Linked DNA regions of Homo sapiens. The protein of the gene in region 2 binds, or shares a complex with, the protein of the main gene of each other region. Each region holds a gene or a part of one and is shown on either strand. Other genes may lie near its edges. The genes, in order: KHDC3L and NLRP5.

What was found.
Region 1: NLRP5 (region 2) and KHDC3L share a complex: the UniProt entries of both Homo sapiens proteins name them as parts of the subcortical maternal complex.

Annotation. Positions count from the first base shown.
Region 1 is NC_000006.12:73,358,074-73,367,733, reverse strand, and holds KHDC3L (KH domain-containing protein 3), read right to left. Parts: upstream 5,077-9,660; 5' UTR 5,005-5,076; coding exon 4,836-5,004; intron 4,640-4,835; coding exon 4,460-4,639; intron 4,179-4,459; coding exon 3,874-4,178; 3' UTR 3,563-3,873; downstream 1-3,562. UniProt on the Homo sapiens protein: Component of the subcortical maternal complex (SCMC), a multiprotein complex that plays a key role in early embryonic development.
Region 2 is NC_000019.10:55,986,995-55,998,916, reverse strand, and holds part of NLRP5 (NACHT, LRR and PYD domains-containing protein 5), read right to left. Parts: intron 11,104-11,922; coding exon of another isoform or gene 11,004-11,103; exon of another isoform or gene 10,288-11,003; intron 1-10,287. UniProt on the Homo sapiens protein: Component of the subcortical maternal complex (SCMC), a multiprotein complex that plays a key role in early embryonic development.

The DNA.
Region 1 (9,660 bases), on a different chromosome or scaffold from region 2:
GCCTTTTGCAAGCGTTTTAAACTCACAAGTCTCTTTAATTGTGCTTTTTTGATTAGAGGTGATGTTGAATATTTTCTTTGTTTCAGTTTTACATTTTTCTTTATTCATTCCTTTTTTTTTTTTTTTTTTTTTTTGAGATGGAGTCGCTCTGTCCCCCAGGCTGGGGTGCAGTGGCGCAATCTCGGCTCACTGTACGCTCCGCCTCCCAGGTTCACCCCATTCTCCTGCCTCAGCCTCCCGAGTAGCTGGGACTGCAGGCGCCCGCCACCATGCCCGGCTAATTTTTTTTTTGTATTTTAGTAGAGACGGGGTTTCATTGTGTTAGCCAGGATGGTCTCCATCTCCTGACCTCGTGATCCGTCCACCTCAGCCTCCCAAAGTGCTGGGATTACAGGCGTGAGCCACCGTGCCCAGCTTTCCTGGTGAGATTTTTATTGTTTATTTTTATTTATTTTTGAGATGGAGTCTCGCTCTGTTACCCAGGCTGGAGTGCAGTGGTGTGATCTCGGCTCACTACAACCTCCGCCTCCCGTATTCAAGCAATTCTTCTGCCTCAGCCTCCCAAGTATCTGGGATTACTGGCATGTGCCAACACACCTGGCTAATTTTCGTATTTTTAGTAGAGACGGGATTTCACTATGTTGCAAGGGTGGTCTCAAACTCCTGACCTCAGGTGATTCTCCTGCCTTGGCCTCCCAAAGTGGTGGGATTAGAGGCGTGAGCCACTGCACCTGGCCCTGGTGGGATTTTTATTTTTATTTATTTATTTTATTTTATTTTTTGAGACAGAGTCTCGCTTTGTCACCCAGGCTGGAGTGCAGTTGCACGATCTTGGCTTACTGCAACCTCCGTCTCCCAGGTTCAAACGATTCTCTTGCCTCAGCCTCCTGAGTAGCTGGGATTACAGGTGCGTGCCACCACGCCCAGCTAATTTTTTGTATTTTTAGTAGAGATGGGGTTTCACCATGTTAGCCAGGATGGTCTCGGTTTCCTGACCTCGTGATCCACCTGCCTCAGCCTCCCAAAGTGCTGGTATTACAGGCGTGAGCCACCGTGCCTGACCCCTGGTGGAATTTTTATAAAACCATTGAACATTTTGGGTTTTTGTTGAGACAGTCTCACTCTGTCACCCAGGCTGGAGTGCAATGGTGCAATCTCGGCTCACCGAAACCTCTGCCTCCCGGGTTCAAGCGATTCTCTTGCCTCAGCCTCCCGAGTAGCTGGGATTACAGGCACCTGCCACCATGCCTGGCTAATTTTTGTATTTTTAGTAGAGAATGGCCATTCTGGTCTCGAACTCGTGCCCTCAACTGATCCACCTGCCTTGGCCTTCCAAAGTGGTGGGATTACAGGCATAAGCCACTGCACCTGGCCCATTAAATATTTTGTTATTGGGGAAAAAGGGGTAAGCTTAAAACTTATTCTAATTTTTCCAAAAATACTGTATGATCCTAAACTCCTTCCATCCTTTGTACACATTAACATATATTGAAGTCCTAATCCCCAGTACCTCAGAATATGACTATATTTGGGCAATATTTGAAATCTTTGACTCTCAAGACTCTTGGCATAGGGCAACCTCTCCTGTTCCTCCATGCTGGGCAGCTGGCTTGGCTTGATGGCATCTATAATTCCAGCATGATATAGAGTTTCCATTTACTGGGTGTTTAGAGAAAGAAGCAGCCATATGAATAGGTGAAACTTAAAGTGTCAGTTCCGGGAAAGATGTTCATAGATATTTTGGATATGAGTTGAAAAGGTTGTGAGGGCCGGACATGGTGGCTCAGGCCTGTATTCCCAGCACTTTGGGAGGCTGAGACAGGTGTTGACCAGCCTGGCCAACATAGTGAAACCCAGTCTCTACTACAAATAAAAAAAATCAGCCAGGTGTGGTGGTGGGCGCCTGTAATTCCAGCTGCTCGGGAGGCTGAGGCAGGAGAATTGCTTAAACCCAGGAGGTGGAGGTTGCAGTGGAATGCCGTTGCATTCCAGCCTGGGTGACAGAGTGAGACTCCATCTCAAAAAAAAAAAAAAAAAAAAAAGAGTAGACTTGCCCTCTTAAATATTAAAACAGTCTATAAAGCTACTTAATTAAAATGGGGGTAGATATCAGAAAAAGTAGAAAAGTTACACATGAACATAAAATAGATTGGTAACACTGAGTTTGGGCAAGGACAGTGAAAACAGCTTGTAAAGGAGAGAACCTGACATTCTGGTAAGGTGGGTATTACACAGAGAAAGACAACATACACATTAAGTTTTAGCTCTGCTCTGATGTAGCCTCATTTGAAACTGATTTTGTGTTGATTTTGAATTTAAAGTGTTCTAAAGTTCTTCTAAAATTAGTCAACTATTTTAATAAAATGATTAGCGGTTAAAAGTTGCTAATAAGTTATTGTAAATTCAGCTTTATGTGGTAATTCCCTTATTGTAAGATACATGATTATTTTAAACTGGAGTGATAATTAGCGGTGACAAAAAGAGTCTGATAGACATTCACCTTATATTTAAAGTTAGCTTTGAACTTTTAAAAATTACTAGTGATTGGCCGGGCGTGGTGGCTCATGCCTGTAATCCCAGCACTTTCGGAGACCCAGGCGGGTGGATCACCTGAAGTCAGATCAGCCTGGCCAACATAGTGAAGCCCCTTCTCTACTAAAAACACAAAAATTAGCTGGGCGTGGTGGCGCGGGCCTGTAGTCCCAGCTACTCGGGAGGCTGAGGCAGGAGAATCGTTTGAACCCAGGAGGCAGAGGTTGTGTTGAGGCGAGATCGAGCCGTTGCACTCCAGCCTGGGCCACAGAGAGAGATTCTGTCTCCAAAATAAAATGAAGATTACCAGTGATTCTTGGTTGGTTAAAAAAAAAAAAAAAAAAAAAAAAAATCCTAATTATAGAATTACTGCGTGCTATTGTTTAATCCTAGCACCCAGCTGTTGGCTTGCATCCTTCTAGATTAATTCGCAGGCTCAGGGACCTGCATCCCAGCGCCCTGACCAAAGCTGTGACCCTAGGGAAGCCAAAGTGTTCTCTGCTGGGGCTTCTCGCTGCCATAGTAACTGAGGAAAGAGTAGCCGATGCCTGTATCTTGCTGGTGTCCACGACCTTCGTGGAAGGTGGGTGACCCAAGCAAGACCTGAAGACTGCAACAGTGCAGCCCAAGAGTGCAGCTCGGGTCTCTTCGTTTCCCCCTTCCCCGATGTCATTTTCCCCAGCTGAGAAAGTGTTCTGTGACAGAGTAGCAATACACCCAGGGCCTTCCAAATCCAGCTGGCCCCCAAGCGACCCAGTTTTCTCATCCCAAGTCACCTTGAGTAGAACGACAGCGGGCTTGGAGAGATTTCCTAGTGGGCCAGAGAGGCTTCTCACCTGTTAAAGCCAGATGCGCGCGGTTAAGGAGTACAAGGGGCACACCGGACCACAGCCGGGGAAGATGGCCACCTCGGGCGGCTAGGAACCACAGGCCCCACCTGCCTCGAGGTAGAGGGCTGCGCAGGGCAGAACTGGGCTGTTGGAGGAATGCGCCTTTCCCTCCCCTCTACCTTCCAAAATACAGACGTTAGGGAAATGCAATTATTTATTAGAACTCAAGTTTGTGTTGGCAACCATTCAACAGAAGGTGTAAAACAAAAACAATCCACATCATCCTTCCTCGCCACCCCAGCTTCCTGGACTTAAGTGAGGCGGGGGGGAGGCGGGGGGCGGGCTTCCACTTTGCAATTCTTTATTAGAACTCAAGTTTGTGTTTGCAACCATGCAACAGAAAGGGTAAAACAAAAAATCCACATCCTCTCCCCAACCCCAGCTTCTGGGCGGAAATACGGGCTTTCACTTTAACCCCTGACTGGCTCTGGCTCCAGGGCCTGAGATGCCTTCATAATCTAGTAACTGGGTCCCGGGCATCCTCGCGAAACCGCTGGGTCACTGCCTTGCTGGCAGCTTCGGGGGATCGCTGGGTCCCCGACTTGTTGGCAGCCTGGAGAGACTGCTGGGTCCCGGCCTCCTGCACCTCCACCGGAGAACCCTGTGTCCCGACCTCCTGGACTTCCACCGAACGCTGGGTCCCGGCCTCCCGGACCTCCACCGAACGCTGCGTCCCGGCCTCCCGGACTTCTATTGAAGACCGCTGGGTCTCGGCCTTCTGAGTGGCGACATCCTGGGCGAGGGCCTTTCCTGAGCCTGGAAGAAGAGCAGTGTGCAGAGGCCACAGCTGTGTCTCTATATCCTCTCCAAAAAAGGACAGTCACCCAAGCGGCCTGCGGGAGTAGGAGCCAGAAATCCCAGAACGAGGGTTCAATTTGGCCTTCTGGATCCGTGGCAGCGAGAACCGCCCCCTCCCCCACCCACCAACCGCAGGCCGACTGGGAGGGCGAGACTGCCGCCCCAGCAGCCAGGAAACCCCAGGATCACTCCTACGGAGCCAGGGTTTGCTCCAGGTAGCCCTATTCCCAGCCCCGTACCTTTCGCCTGGAGCTGGCGGTGATAGTCAGCCAGGTTCATGATCATCTTGATTGTGTCCTCCTGGTAAGAAGGCCTCCCAAATACCAAGATCTCAGCCTCGCCGTTAGGGTCCAATCGATTCACGTGAATCAAGATTTGGGACATACCCTGGACGTGCGGGATGCGTTCTCCGCCCCGGCCTGCGCGGGTAGCAGAGAGGCTGTGAGGGACCGGTGGCTCCCGGGGGTCTTGGGAGGGGAAGGTGGAAGGAGGAGACAGCCAGAGGGCATTGGCTACTGGTGAGGATCGCCCTGGAACGCAGCCAGAATATGTGGGCTGTGGGTATGGGTGGCAGAAAGAAGCCGCATGGGGGCTGCCCCTTCTTGGTCCACTCACCGAAGATCTTTTCCACCAGCCAAACCTCAAGGCGAACTACCTTCGGATTCTTCAGGAACTCAGAGTGGAACCAGGAGAACCGCTTAGGGAGGTGACCGAGCACCTCCACTGGCATTGCTTTTGGCTGCATCAGTTGCACGAGCGTCGGAAACCGCCTGGGAGCGTCCATGCTGCGGCCGGTCCTGCAGGAGACAAGGACACCACAGCAAACCCAAAGGCCGAGCTGGAGCTGGGAGACTAGAACCGCGGTTCTGCCTGGGCCTTATTTCAAGGGCTTTTGGCCAGCCCCTCCTCTCTAGCCGCGCCCTTCTTATTGGGTCCCAGGCCTCGCCTCCGCCTCCAGGAGCCCCGGCTTCTTCCGAGGCCGCCCAAGTGCACCGGTTCCTGGGCTGCTCTTAGAGTGTCCCTTCTGTCAGGAGCAGCCCTTTTCCCAGCGCACCCGGTAGGAGGAACCGGGCTCTGGGCACCAGGAATCCGCTGGTGCCCAGCGGGAGTCTTAACCATGGACTCAGGAAGGCGTGGGCAAGCCCAGTATCTCTCCCAGAGGAAAGAACTAATACTTGCAGAATGAATACTTCATAGGTCCCTCACGCGCTTCTGATCCCTGGCCACTACGTTTCCTCCCTCTGGACCAGGTTTTCAGATTATTCTGTCACTTGCCTGAGACTGCTGAGTACAGAGCAGAATAAGCGCCCGCCTTTTTTCTTTCTTTTTCTTTTTTTTTTCTGTTATAGGGTCTGTGTAGTGAGATTTGCATAGTAAAAAAAAAAAATGGATAGAAAAAAAGTTATGGGGCCTGGCTATGTTGCCCAGGTTGGCTTCGAACTCCAGGGCTCAAAAAAATCCTCCCTCTTTAGCCTCCCCAGTAGTGGGACTATAGCACGCTTTTAATTAATGCAGCCATGAACACACCTAACCACAGATAGTTCTCGTGGTTTGGACACAAGATGAGATTCCTTGAAAATTTTTGACATCTCTATTCTCTTTTTTATTTTTAATTTTTAAAATTTGCTGCAGGGTCTCTCTGTGTCACCCAGGCTAGGGGGCGGTGGTGTGATTATAGCTCACTGCAGCCTCCATCTCCTGGGCTCAAGAGATCCTCCCTCCTCAGCTCCCCCAGTAGCTGGGACTACAAGCTCCCGACACCATGCCCAGTGATGCCTCTGTTCTCTAAATAACACAATTATATTTGTCTCTTTCTTCCTTCCTTTCTTTTTTCCTTTCCCTTTTCCTTTCCTTTCTTTTCCCCTTCCCTTTCTGACAAGGGTTCGTTATGTTGCCCAAGCTGGTCTCAAGCAATCCTTCTGGCCTGGGCAAAATGATAAAACCCTATCCCTACAAAAAATACAAAAATTAGCTGGACTAGGTGGCACGCACCTGTAGTCCCAGCTACTCGGAAGGCTGAGGTGGGACAATCCCTTGATCCCAGAGAGGCTGAGTCTACAGTAAGCAGTGATGGTGCCTCTGCACTCCCCCCTGGGTGACAGAGTGAGACCCTGTCTCAAAAATAATAATAATAATAACTGTTTTAGATGTGTTGCTATAAGACAAATTATAATTTATAATTTATTTTTATTCAGTATTGAAACACTGAAGAGAACTTCAGGTTTGCCACATTAATAGGCCGAATGTATATATTCAGACCATGCCCAACCGGCTGAATATATTTCATATGTAGGAATGATTTAGTAGTTGGGAAATTCTTACTTGCTAATTGAGATGATTAAAGTACTTTGCAAAACAACAAGAAAAAAAAAAACCATTAAAAATGGGGCAAAGCCGGGCACAGTGGCTCACGCCAGGAGTTCTAGACCAGCCTGGCCAACATGGCGAAATCCTGTCTCTATTAAAAATACAAAAATTAGCCGGGCATGGTGACGGGCACCTGTAATCCCAGCTACTCAGGAAGCTGAGGCATGAGAATCGCTTGAACTCCTGAGGCGGAGGTTGCAATGAGCCGATATCAGGCTACTGAACTGCAGCCTGCTGGATAGAGCGAGACTGTCTCCACAAAACAAACAAACAAAACTGGGCAAGGAGCATGAAGAGATATTTCTCAAAAGAAGAAATACAGGCAGCCTACAAACACATGAAAAAATGCTCCGCATCACTAATCAGAAGAGGAATGCAAATTAAAATCACACCGATATACCATCATACACCAGTCACAATGACTTTTATTAAAAACTCAAAAAACAGGGCGGGCATGGTGGCTCATGCCTGTAATCCCAGCACTTTGGGAGGCTGAGACGGGTGGATCACAAGGTCAGGAGTTAAAGACCAGCCTGGCCAACATGGTGAAACCCCATCTGTACTAAAAATACAAAAATTAGCCGGGCGCAGTGGCAGGTGCCTGTAATCCCAGCTACTTGGGAGACTGAGGCGGGAGAATTGCTTGAACTTAGAGGGTGGAGGTTGCAGTGAGCTGAGATTGAGCCACTGCTCGCCAGCCTGGGTGACAGAGTGAGACTCCGTCTCAAAAAAAAAAAAAAAAGTCAAAAAACAGGCCGGGCGTGGTGGCTTACACATGTAATCCCAGCAATTTGGGAGGCCAAGGCGGGCGTATCACCTGAGGTTAGGAGTTCAAGACCAGCCTGGCCAACATGGTGAAACCCCATCTCTACTAAAAATACAAAAATTAGCGAGATGTGGTGGCAGGGGCCTGTAATCCCAGCTACTCGGGAGACTGAGGCAGGAGAATTGCTTGAACCCGGGAGGCAGAGGTTGCAGTGAGCCAAGATCGTGCCATTGCACTCCAGCCTGGAGGACAGAGCAAGACTCTGTCTCGGAAAAAAAAAAAAAAGAAATAAAAAATGTCAAAAAACGACGTAGAAGTCCGGGCACAGTGGCTCACACCTATAATCCCAGCACTTTGGGAGGCCGAGGTAGGCGGATCACGAGGTCAGGAGTTTGAGAGCAGCCTGACTAACATGGCGAAATCCCTTTCTACTAACAACACAAAAATTAGCTGGCCGTGGTGGCTGGCGCCTGTAATCCCAGGTACTCGACAGGCTGAGGCAGGAGAATCGCTTGAACCTGGGAGGCGGAGGTTGCGATGTGCCCAGACTGCGCCATTGCACTCCATCCTGGGCGACGGTGCGAGACTCCCTCTCAACAAAAAAAGAAAAAGAAAAAGAAAAAAGAAAACACACACACACAAACAAAAAAAAAAAAAACAAAAAACGACGGGGCACGGTGGCTCAAGCCTGTAATCCTAGTACTTTGGGAGGCTAGGATTTATATATCTACCACTATCTTTCACCCTCTTCCAACCCAGGTAAGCTGGGACTTAACTATGTGCATCAGACCTAGATCATCTTAAAACAGAGATATGATTTTGTTAGATCAATATTCAGTGTTCGCACTATTACGACTTTGTAAACTATTCATAGTTGTATATACTATGATTTCTTTTCTTGACAAAGTTTTGTTTTTCTAGATATTGATAATGGATTTATTTATTTATTTATTTTTGATGAGACAGCATCTCACTCCGTCACCCAGGCTAGCGTGCAGTGACCCATCATAGTTCACAGCAGCCTCCAACTTCTGGGTTCAAGTGATCTTCCCACCTCAGCTTCCTAAGTAGCTAAGATCACGGGCATGTGCCATCACAACTAATTTGTTTTAATTTTTTTTTTTAGGACAGGCTGGTCTTTTTTTGTTTTTGTTTTTGTCTTTTTTTTTTTGAGATGGAGTCTCGCTGTGTCAACAGGCCGGAGTGCAGTGGTGCAATATCGGCTCACTGCAACCTCCACCTCCTGGGTTCAAGCGATTCTCATGCCTCAGCCTCCCGAGTAGCTGGGATTACAGGCATCCGCCACCAAGCCCAGCTAATTTTTGTATTTTTAATAGAGATGGGGTTTCATCATGTCTCAGTGCCTGCAACATGGCCACTATATGCCCAGGATGGTCTCGAACTCCTGGGCTCAAGCGATTCTCCCACCTTAGCCTCCCAAAGTGTTGGGATTACAGGCATGAGCCACGGAACCCAGCCTTATTTCTTTAATATGTATTTTTTCCCAATCTTCGTGAATATTTACCTTGTATGGTATCTTTTACTTGTGCTAGTAATGCTATTGAAATCAGTATCCTTCTACATGTCATTTCTTACAAGGGGGAGTATAACTATAGGATGAAATTTCAAATGTAGAATTGCTGAGTCAAAGGATCTGTAAATTTCCAATTGATAAGGTATTGCCAAATGGCATCCCTCCGAGGTCGAACCAACCTATATACTCACCAGCCTTGTTGCTAACATTATAATATGATAAACATTGACATTAATTTTGGATAAAAGCAATGCATATGCTTTTAAAAGCAATGCATATGCTTTTAAGTGTTCCACCTTTCTAAAAAGTCATTATTTGGAAATGCAAGTACCGATGGGTGGCAAGCAGAGCCCATGCAATGGCCAGATGTCCTCTAAGACACTTGCTGCAACCCAGACCTACAGCAGAAGTGATCTTTAACATTTGGTTATAAAAATTTTCTCCAGGGCTGGGCGTGGTGGCTCACACCTGCAATCCCAGCACTTTGGGAGGCTGAGGCTGGACGATTGCTTGAGGCTAGGAGTTCTAGACCAGCCTGGGCAATATAGGGAGAGCCTATCTCCATAAAAACTAAAAAATTAGTCATGCATGGTGGCGCATGCCTGTGGTCTCAGCTACTTGGAAGACTGAGGTGGAAGAATCGCTTGAACCAGGGAGGCCAAAGCTGCAGTGAGCCGAGATCACCACACTGTACTCAACCTGGATAACAAAGTGAGACATTGTCTCAAAAACAAACAAATAAATAAATAAATAAATAAATAAATAAATAAAAC
Region 2 (11,922 bases):
ACCACAAAAAGTAACTAAGGCAATGGACATGTTAGCTTTTTTCTGCCATGTATACATATATCTAAACATCGCATTGTACCTCGCAAATATATACAATTATTGTCAATTAAAAATAAAAGTGGATTTAGGATTGCTTCAATTTGTGAATCTGCAGGTGAGGCTAAAGTGTGTGTATATATATATACACATATATATATATATACACACACACACATATATATATATATATATATATATATATATACACACACACACACATATTTTGAGACGAAGGCTTGCATTGTCGCCCGGGCTGGAGTACAGTGGCACAATCTCAACTCACTGCAACCTCCACCTCCCGGGTTCAAGCAATTCTCCTGTCTCAGCCTCCAGAGTAGCTGGGATTTCAGGCACCTGTCACCATGCCCGGCTAATTTTCTGTATTTTTAGTAGAGACAGGGTTTCACTAGGTTGGCCAGACTGGTCTCGAACTCCTGACCTTGTGGCCCACCCGCCTCGGCCTCCCAAAGTGCTGGGATTACAGGCGTGAGCCACCACATCTGGCCTCATATATATTTTTAGAAAAAGTGTCTCACTCTGTCCCTCAGGCTGGAGTGTGGTGACTATCATAGCTCACCATATAGCCTTGAACTCCTGGGCTCAAGTGATCTTCCTGCCTCAGACTCCCCAAGTAGCTGGGACTACAGGTGCACACCCCACACCTGGTTTCTTATATTTTTATAATTTTAGAATGTCTGAAATTCAGGACTGAGATAAGATAAATCTAATCCAATCTTTGGAATTCCTACTTAATTTCATTAAAAGAGGCAAGGTTTTCATTAACCTACCTACCCTCCAGGAAAAGATGTTTTCTGTGTGTGTGTATGCTACCATGGTTGTTTTGATTATTTTGATTATGATAAAACCATTTATAAGAGTAGATAGTACTTCCTGCTCCCTACCTTCAACATTCAGAGAATAAAAAAATATATAGCTTCAATGGATGTATAAATAGTATCAACAGAAACACTTTACAAACCAGGACTAGATATCCTTCAAATTAATTTTTTTTTTTGAGATAGAGTGTTGCTCTGTCACCCAGGCTGGACTGCAGTGGTGCAATCTCAGCTCACTGCAACTGCTGCCTTCTGGGGTCAAGTGATCCTCCTGCCTCAACCTCCCAAGTAGCTGAAATTACAGGTGCCAGCCACCACACCCAGCTATTTTTTTGGTATTTTAACCAGAATTTTTGGTATTTTGGTATTTTTGGTAGAGATGGGGTTTTACCATGTTGGCTAGGCTGGTCTCTAACTCCTGTCCTCAAGTAATCTGTCCACCTTGGCTTCCCAGAGTGCTGGGATTACAGGTATGAGCCACCATGCCCAGCTACCTTTTAAACTTTTACAGAACTTATACCAATTCTTCTCAAACTATTCCGAGAATTGAAGGGGAGGGAATTCTTCCTCATTCTATGAGCCAAGCATTGTCCTGATACCAAAACCAGAAAAGGACACACAAAAAAGAAAACTACAGGCCAACGTCTCTCATGAACATAGATACAAAAATCTTTGACAAAATTCTAGGTAACCAAATCTAAGAACACATCAAAAAGATCATTCCCCATGATGAAGTGGGATTCATCTCAGGGTTGCAAGGGTGGTTCATCAGCAGACTGAAGGACAAAAACCACACGATCATCAAGACATGCAGAAAAAGCATTTGATAAAATCAACATTTACAAGAAAAAAAACAAACAACCCCATCAAAAAGTGGGCAAAGGATATGAACAGACACTTCTCAAAAGAAGATATTTATATAGCCAACAGATACAAGAAAAAATGCTCATCATCACTGGCCATCAGAGAAATGCAAATCAAAACCACAATGAGATACCATCCCACACCAGTTAGAATGGTGATCATTAAAAAGTCAGGAAACAACAGGTGCTAGAGAGGATGTGGAGAAATAGAAACACTTTTACGCTGTTGGTGGGACTGTAAACTAGTTCAACCATTGTGGAAGTCAGTGTGGCGATTCCTCAGGGATCTAGAACTAGAAATACCATTTGATCCAGCCATCTCATTACTGGGTATATACCTAAAGGATTATAAATCATGTTGCTATAAAGACACATGCACACGTATGTTTATTGTGGCACTATTCACAATAGCAAAGACTTGGAACCAACCCAAATGTCCATCAGTGATAGACTGGATTAAGAAAATGTGGTACATATACACCATGGAATACTATGCAGCCATAAACAAGGATGATTTCATGTCCTTGTAGGGACATGGATGAAGCTGGAAATCATCATTCTGAGCAAACTATCGCAAGGACGAAAAACCAAACACCACATGTTCTCACTCATAGGTGGGAACTGAACAATGAGAACACTTGAACACAGGAAGGGGAACGTCACACACCGGGGACTGTTGTGGGGGAGGGAGCATTAGGAGATATACCTAATGTAAATGATGAGTTAATGGGTGCAGCACACCAACAGGGCACATGTATACATATGTAACAAACCTGCACGTTGTGCACATGTACCCTAGAACTTAAAGTATAAAAGAAAAGATGAACAAAGAAAAAAAAATTCAACATCCCTTTATGATAAGACGCAGAAGAAACATAACTCAGAACAATAAAGGCCATGTATGACAAACCCACAGCTAGCATTATACTGAATGTGGAAAAGAAGAAAGCCTTTTCCCTAAGAACTGGCACACAGGGTGCCCACTTCCGCCACTCCTATTTAACACAGTACTGGAAGTCTTAGCCAGAGCAATTAGGGAAGAAAAAGAAACAAAGGGCATCAAAATTGGAGAAGAAGTAGATTGTTCATGTTTGCAGGCAATATAATCTTTCATTTAGAAAAGCCTACAGACCCCACCAAAAGACAGAGAACTGATAAAGGAATTCAGTAAAGTTGCAGAATCAACATACAAAAATGTTGATTTTTGGATAAATTTTTCAGTATGATGCAAGTTTTTATATAATAAATGAACTCAGTATGATGCAAAAATCAACATAAAAACAGTAGCATTTCTAAACACCAATAATGAACTAGCTGAAAAAGAAAGCAATGTCCTTTATAATAGCTACAAAAATGTACCTAGAAATAAATTTAACTAAGGAGGTAAGAAATATCTATAGTAAAACCCACAGAATACTGAAAAAAATTGAAGAGGATAGATAAAAATGGAGACATCTAACGTTCACTGATTAGAAGAATGTTGTTAAAATGGCCATCCTACCCAAAACAATCTACAGATTCAATGCAATCCCTATCAAAACACCAACGACATTCTTCACAGAAATAGAAAAACAATCCTAATATTTGTATAGAACCACAAAAGATCCCAAGTAGCCCAAACAATTTTGAGCAAAAAGAAAGCTGGAGGCATATTACCTGACTTCACAAAGCTATAGTAACCAAAACAGCATGGCACTGTCATGAAAACAGACATAGACCAACAGAATAGATAATTCAGAAATCCATATATTTATAGCCAACTCTTTCTTTTTTAATGTATTTTTCAGGACTTGTTAGAATATTTTAATATTTAAGTTTTTTTAATACTTTAAGTTCTAGGGTACATGTGCACAACGTGCAGGTTTGTTACACAGGTATACATGTGCCATGTTGGTTTGCTGCACCCATGAACTCATCGTTTGCATTAGGTATTTCTCCTAATGCTATCCCTCCCCCAGCCCCACACCCTAGGACAGGCCCCAGTGTGTGATGTTCCCCACCCTGTGTCCAAGTGTTCTCATTGTTCAATTCCCACCTATGAGTGAGAACATGTGGTGTTTGGTTTTCTGTCCTTGCGATAGTTTGCTCAGAATGATAGTTTCCAGCTTCATCCATGTCCCTACAAAGAGCATGAACTCATCCAACTCATTTTCAAAGGCACCAAGATTAGGGAAAGTACACTGTGTTCACTAGGTGGTACTGCGAAAACGGGATAACCATATGCAGAATTAAACTAGACCCCTGTCTCTCACCATATATAAAAATCAACTCAAGATAAAGTACTTAAACATAAGACTTGAAATAATAAAACTACCAGAAGAAAACATAGGGAAAGCTCTTCTGAATACAAGTCAAGGCAAATATTTTGCGGCTAAGACTTCAAAAGGACAGGCAACAAAAGCAAAAATAGACCAATAGGAGTACATCCAACTAAAGAGCTTCTGTACAGCAAAGGAAATAGTCCAAGAGTAAAGAGACAACCTGGCTGGGCACAGTGGCTCAGGCCTGTAACTCCAGCACTTTGGGAGGCCAAGGCAGGTGGATCATGAGGTCAGGAGATCGAGACCATCCTGGCCAACATGGTGAAACTCCATCTCTACTAGAAATACAAAAATTAGCTGGGTGTGGTGGCACGTGCCTGAAATCCCAGCTACTGGGGAGGCTGAGGCAGGAGAATCGCTTGAACTAGGGAGTTGGAGGTTACAGTGAGCTGAGATGGTGCCACTGCACTCCAGCCTGGTGACAGAACAAGACTCTGTCCCCCCTCCCAAAAAAACCCCGCAGAATGGGAGAAAATATTTGCAAAATAATGATCTGGCAAGGAACTAATACCCAGAATATATGAGGAACTCAAACAACTGTATAGCAAAACTCCAAGTAATCCATTTAAGAAGTGGGTAAAAACCTGAACAGACATTTCTCAAAAGACATCCAAATGACCAACAGATACGAAAAAAGATTCAACATTACTCATCATCGCAATCTCACTGTGGTTTTGATTTGCATTTCCCTCTAGTTGGAATGGCTACTATCAAAAAAGACGAAAAATAAATGCTGGCAAGGATGCAGAGAAAGAAACTCCTTTCCACTGTCAGTGGAAATGTAAATTAGCACAGCCATTATGGAAAACAGTGTAGCAGTGTCTCAAAGAACTGAAAATAGATTAATACCCTATGATCCAGCGATCTGGTGATTTACCCGAAGTATATCAAAGGTATGTCTGCACTCTCATGTTTACCACCCCACTATTCACGATAGCTAAGATATGTAATCTACCTAACTGTCCATCAACAAATGAATCAAGAAAACGTGGTATACACACACAAGGGAACATGTTTCAGCCTTCAAAAAATCCTGCCATTTGTGACAACACAGATGAGCCTGTAGCTCTTCATGTGAGCTACAGCCTGTAGTTCATTGTGTGAAGCAAAATAAACCAGGCATGGGAAACTAAATACTGAATGTATTTTACTCATATGTGGGAGTTAAATTGAGCAAATGGGACTATGGAAGTAGGGGATGTAATTGTGGGTATTAGAGGATAGGGGAGAGGAGGGAGAGGGGAGAGGGGAGGTTGAGAGGAGGAGGGGGGAGGAGAGGAGGGGAGAGGAGGGGGAGGGGGAGGGGGAGGGGGAGGGGAGGGGGGGAGGGGAGGGGGGAGGGGAGGGGGGAGAGGAGGGGAGGGGGGAGAGGGGGAGGGAGGGGGGAGAGAGGGGGGAGAGAGGGGGGAGAGGAGGGGGAGAGGAGGGGGAGAGGAGGGGGAGAGGAGGGGGAGAGGAGGGGGAGAGGAGGGGGAGAGGAGGGGGAGAGTATGGCTCATGGGTGCTAAGATTACAGGTAGAAGGGAGAAATGGGTGCAGGTGTTCTGCAGCACTGCAGGTGAATATGGTGAACTATAACTTATTGTCCACTCTCAAAAAGCTAGAAGGGAGGACAGAGTGTTCACAACACAAATGTTTGGGGTGATGAATATGCTAAGTCCCCTGATTTGATCATGATACATTGTATACAGGTATCAAAATATCACTCGGGCCGGGCGCAGTGGCTCACACCTGTAATCCCAGCACTTTGGGAGGCCGAGGTGGGTGGATCACCTGAGGTCGGGAGTTCAAGACCAGCCTGACCAACATGGAGAAACCCCATCTCTACTAAAAATACAAAATTAGCCAGGCATGGTGGCAGGTGCCCGTAATCCCAGCTACTCAAGAGGCTGAGGCAGGAGAATCGCTTGAACCTGGGAGGCAGAGGTTGCAGTGAGCCAAGATTGCACCATTGCACTCCAGCCTGGGCAACAAGAGCGAAAATTCATTTCAAAAAAAAAAAGTCTCCATAAATATGTACAGTTATGTGTCAACTAAAATAAAGGAAAAACTGCAGCAAATGTATCTATTTTTGACAAAGATCAGGGGTCAGCAAATCTCCCAGAAGGAGCCAGGCATTTTTGGCTTTGGGGCCATTTGCTCTCTGCCACCCGTGCTTAGCTGCTCCTGCACTGGGAAAGTAGCTGTAGACAATTTGTCAACAAAGGAGAAAAGCTGTGTTCCAATAAATCTTTATTTACAAAACTGGGCAATGGGCTGGATTTGACACAAGCCCTACAGAGAATCCCATAAGAATGTTACGTGTCATTATTAAAAAGTCAAAAAACCGACGCTGCTGAGGTTGCAGGAAAAAATGGAAAGCTTATACACTGTTGGTGGGAGTGTAAATCAGTTCAGCTATTGTGGAAAGCAGGGTGGAGATTCCTCAAAGAGCTAAAAGCAGTAGCGTTGGACCCAGCCATCCCATCACTGGGTATATACACTAAGAGGAATATAAAGCATTCTCCCATAAAGATACATGCATGCAAATGTTCACCGTGGCACTGTTTACAATAGAAAAGACATGGAGTCAACCTAAATGCCCATCAAGGACAGACTGGATAAAGAAAATGTGGTACACGTACACCATGGAATACTATGCAGCCATAAAAAAGAATGAGATCATGTCTTTTGTGGGAACATGGATGGAACTGGGGGCCATCATCCTAAGCAAACTAAGACAGGAACAGAAAACCAACTACCACATGTTCTCACTTATAAATGGGAGCTAAATAAGAACACATGGACACAAAGAGGGGAACCACAGATACTGGGGTCTACCTGAGGGTGGAGGGTGGGAGGAGGGTGAGAAGCAGAAAGAAATAACGACTGGGTACTGGGCTTAATAACCTGGGTGAGGAAATAGTATGTATAACAAACCCCCATGACACAAGTTTACCTACGTAACAAACCTTCACATGTACCCCCAAAACTAAAAAGTAAAAAAAGAATGTTAGCTGTCAGCACTTCCGTTCAGTTTTGTACTCTCTCCCTATTCTTTATATCTGATATTCCACTATTATTTATATTTACCTAATTTATATTTGATAGGAAAGCAATCAGATAAAGAGGAGGTATAAAAGTGGAAAAAGGTGAAAATTAACATCTGTATGTAGGTATGTATGCCTAATAAATTACTCAATTTTAAATTATATGTAGTTATTAAATTGGGCTGGTAACAAATGTAACGATGAAATCCCACACAAAATCTAATAACCAGTTAAACGTGAGATCAAATGAACAGCAACTATAGAGGTAAAACATGCATAATTTAGAAAAGTGGCTATCTGTTTTGAGAGCTTTAAAATGCGGCTGCTAGATAAAAGGCTCAATGTGGTGAGGCAGAGGCAGATTCCCAACACATCAGTCATCCTCCATCAGTATAATATCATCCAAGAAGTACTGCTGATATTGTTATCAGGACAAGAAACTCAATGTTTCTATGAAAAGCCAAAACTAGACAAGAAAATTCTAAGAAGAATGATATTCACTCTGTTGATGTCTAGGCTGCACTTTAACATCTACGATAGAAGGTCACCATTTCCGGGGGCTAAATTTTGAAATATTTATGTTCATGAATTCCTACTTTACATTTAGCCCCCAAATAATGAGCAAATGGAATAGAAGGTCTCAATCGAATGGTATAAAAGAGACAAGATGACAGATTAATTCAATACAGTACCCTCCTCACTCCAGAAAAACAAACAAATCTTTAAAGTCCCGCTGAAAAAACTGCTGCAAATAAATTTGAGACATGACAAAGAATGCATTACGTAAACAGCTCTTCCAATCCATGATAATGATCAACAGCTCAGCGGAATTTTTTTTTTCTTTGAGATGGAGTTTTGCTTTTGTTGCCCAGGCTAGAGTACAGTGATATGATCTCAGTTCACTGCAATCTCCGTCTCCTGGGTTCAAGTGATTCTCCTGCCTCAACCTCCCCAGTAGCTGGGATTACAGACACCCTCAACCATGCCCAGCTTTTTTTCTTTTTGAGACAGAGTCTTGCTCCGTCGCCCAGGCTGGAATGCAGTGGCACCATCTCGGCTCACTGCCAGCTCCGCCTCCCGGGTTCCTGCCATTCTCCTGCCTCAGCCTCCCGAGTAGCTGGGACTACAGGCGCCCACCACCATGCCCGGCTAATTTTTGTATTTTTAGTAGAGACGGGGTTTCACCGTGTTAGCCAGGATGGTCTCGATCTCCTGACCTCATGATCCACCCGCCTGGGCCTCCCAAAGTGCTGGGATTACAGGCATGAGCCACCGTGCCCGGCCTAATTTTTGTATTTTTAGTAGACAGGGTATTTCGCCATGTTAGTCAGGCTGGTCTCAAACCCCTGACCTCAAATGATCCACCTGCCTCGGCCTCCCCAAGTGCTGGGATTATAGGCATGAGCCACTGTGCCCAGCCTATTAGAAGGATTTTGAAGAGTTAAAAAACTGCATATGACTTTTGTAATCCCAGCACTTTGGGATCCTGAGGCAGGTGGATCACCTGAGGTCAGGAGTTCGAGACTAGCCTGGTCAACATGGTGAAACCGCATCTCTACTAAAAATACACAAATTAGCCGGGCATCGTGGCGTGTGCCTGTAGTCCCAGCTACTCGGGAGGCTGAGGCAGGAGAATCGCTTGAACCCGGGAGGCAGAGGTTGCAGTGAGCTGAGATCTCACCATTGCACTCCAGCCTGGGCATAGAGTAAGACACTGTCTCAAAAAAAAAAAAAAAAAAAAAAAAAAAAGAAAAAAGAAAAAAAAGAAACGGCATGACTTTTAAATGTACTTTAAAAAAAAGTTATTACTGATAAGGTAAATAGCCAAAATGATGTACTACGTTTGACATGTGAGGCTGACAATGTCCACAATGTGTGACTGGACGCTGCTTTGTGATGGGTGAAGGAAAAGGTGCTCCTACATTAGTGAAGTGTAAATGGGTGCCATCTTTTTGGACGGTACTTTAACAATCTTTATCCGTTTTAAATGCAATTAGACCCAGCCGTGTGTAAAACAGCAAGACTGAAGACCATTTAGGAGTCGATTAAAAACAGGTGGGTTAATTTGAGCACCAACGTGCCCTGCATCCTTAAAAATGCACAACAATCAGCACAGAAAGTTGCCCCATCTGTAAGGCTCTTAATGCCATACACGTGCGCAGAATGTCTTTGGGTGATGAGCAGAAAATAGGGAAGAGACACTACGGGGGCAGGGAAGGACACACTTCCCGCCACACCTTCTCATATTGCTGCTCTTTCAAATTAATACTGAAAAAGGCCGGGCGCAGTGGCTCACGCCTGTCATCCCAGAACTTTGGGAGGCTGAGGTGGGTGGATCATCTGAGGTCAGGAGTTCGAGACCAGCCCGGCCAACATGGGGAAACCCCGTCTCTACTAAAAATATGAAAATTAGCCGGGCGTGGTGGCGGGCACCTGTAATCCCAGCTACTCGGGAGGCTGAGGCAGAATTGCTTGAACCTGGGAGGCGGAGGGTGCAGTGAGTAGAGATCCAGCCATTGCACTACAGCCTGGGCAAAAGAGGGAGACTTTGTCTAACACATACACACCAAAAATCACCAAATACTAAAAAGTACCTCCCATTAAAAAATCATTTTAGTAGAAGATAAGTAGACATAAATGAATTTCATCAAAACAATTGAGGTATTCTTACAATTACCCATCCATGGAAGACCAAAAAACTAGGTACACGTGAACACTGATGATAGAACATTGAAGTTTATGTGCTGTATTGCTCAAAATAGAACCATAGCAAGAAAATAAGCTTTTCTACACATTCCTATAAATATTTAGGGACAATATTGACTATTGGTAAATGGAAAAATACTTATTTCTGAGCACATGTTTAAAAGCTTACATCCTGACCACAGAACAATTAAGATTTTCTAGGTTTTTCTCCCCCTTCTGAGTTAACATAAACCACCTGGATACATGGAAATTGAAAGCAAAACACAGAAGACAAAGACTCTCAACTTAGGCAATGAAATTAAGAAGGAAGGTTATTTGAGAAAGAACGAATTTCGGACTGTCATATCTAAACACTTCTATATACACGTAATTTGAATTAAACATTTCCCTTACCGCTCTACACAATCCTTTAAAGGGGCTGGAGGACCAAGACGTGAACCAGGGCTGTAAAAACCAACAAAAGCCTCAGGGGTGGGTAAGGAAACGAGTATGGTCTAGGGACAGTGATTTTATTTTTAAGATGAGGTGATTGAGCAGGTTCATACATTCAGAGCTGAGAATAAATAAAGGTAGAAGAAGCAAGAAGACGATGAAGACTTTGTCTATATCCTGTCTTAGGTGACTCAAAGCATTTCATTTAAACTTTATATAGCATATATATATATATATATATATATACACACACACATATATATATTTATGTGTATATGTATTTTTTTTTTCTTCTTGAGACAGAGTCTTGCTCTGTCGCCCAGGCTGGAGTGCAATGGCGTGATCTCAGCTCACTGCAAACTCTGCCTCCTAGATTCAAGTGATTCTCCTGCCTCAGCCTCCCGAGCAGCTGGGATTACAGGAGCCCACCACCACGCCTAATTTTTTGTATTTTTTTTTTTAGTAGAGGCGGGGTTTCACCATGTTGGCCAGGCTGGTCTGGAACTCCTGACCTCAGGTAATCTGCCCACCTCGACCTCCCATAGTGCTGGGTTACAGGCGTGAGCCACCACGCCCAGCCTTACATAGCATATTAATACACACAGGGCATCACCGTCCTCACTCCAGGGTTCAAAGCTGAGGTTCTGTGGTGTTGACTGGGTTGCTCTGTTTCAGGGGAAAGTACGTTAATGCATACAGGATGATAACGCCTGGTATTTGCCAGTTGTCAGAGTGGGAACTGATCAATCAAGCCCCAGAGAAAGATGACTGGACGGCCTAAGGATTAATCTGGGATAGGCAGTCACTTTTTCCCGTGAAGTCGGGTGGGTGAGGAGTTGGGGAGAAGCTAGTTATTCGAGTCCAGGCAGGAATACAGCTGGAGGGAGGTAAAGGAAGGCTGCTGGTTGAGGTTATTTTCTGAGGATGAGTGACTTCCCTAAGCTTGCATTTTGTCTCTATGCTTTTTCTACAGACCGTACCCCTCCCACCTCACCTTTCTACCCAGGTGTCCTGAATGATTAGAAAGCAGCAGTTAAGATTATAGGGCTTGAAGTCTCAGACCCAGCTTTGAATGATTTGCTGCTTTCTACCCCAGGCAAGCCATTTAACTTATCTGGGGCTCAGCTTCCTCCCTTGGTAAACAGGACAAACAACACCGTCAGAATTGTATGGCATTTCAATAACTAAGTTACGGTTAACCATAGTATTTGCACAATTAGCACCAAAACACCCTCTGGACTCCTACCAAATGCAGACCAGACATTAGCTAATCCTGACATTCAAGTTGCAGTACCCCCTACTCTGTACTTAATTTTTACTTGAGACGAAGTCTCACTCTGTCACCCACGCTGGAGTGCAGTGGCGTGACCTTGGCTCACTGCAACCTCTGCCTCCTGGGTTAAAGCGATTCTCCCGTCTCAGCCTCCCTAGAAGGTGGGATTATAGGCACATGCCACCACGCCCAGCTCATTTTTGTACTTTTATTAGAGATGAGGATTTCACCATGTTGGCCAGGCTGGTCTTGAACTCCTGACCTCAGATGATCCACCTGCCTCGGCCTCCCAAAGTGCTGGGATTATAGGCGTGAGCCACTGCACCCAGCCCTCTGTACAGTATTTTAGACCGAATGTCTGAAAAGGACGAGAGACTTACCTAAATACCCCAAGTAAATATGAGGTTTTAGAGGAAGATCTTT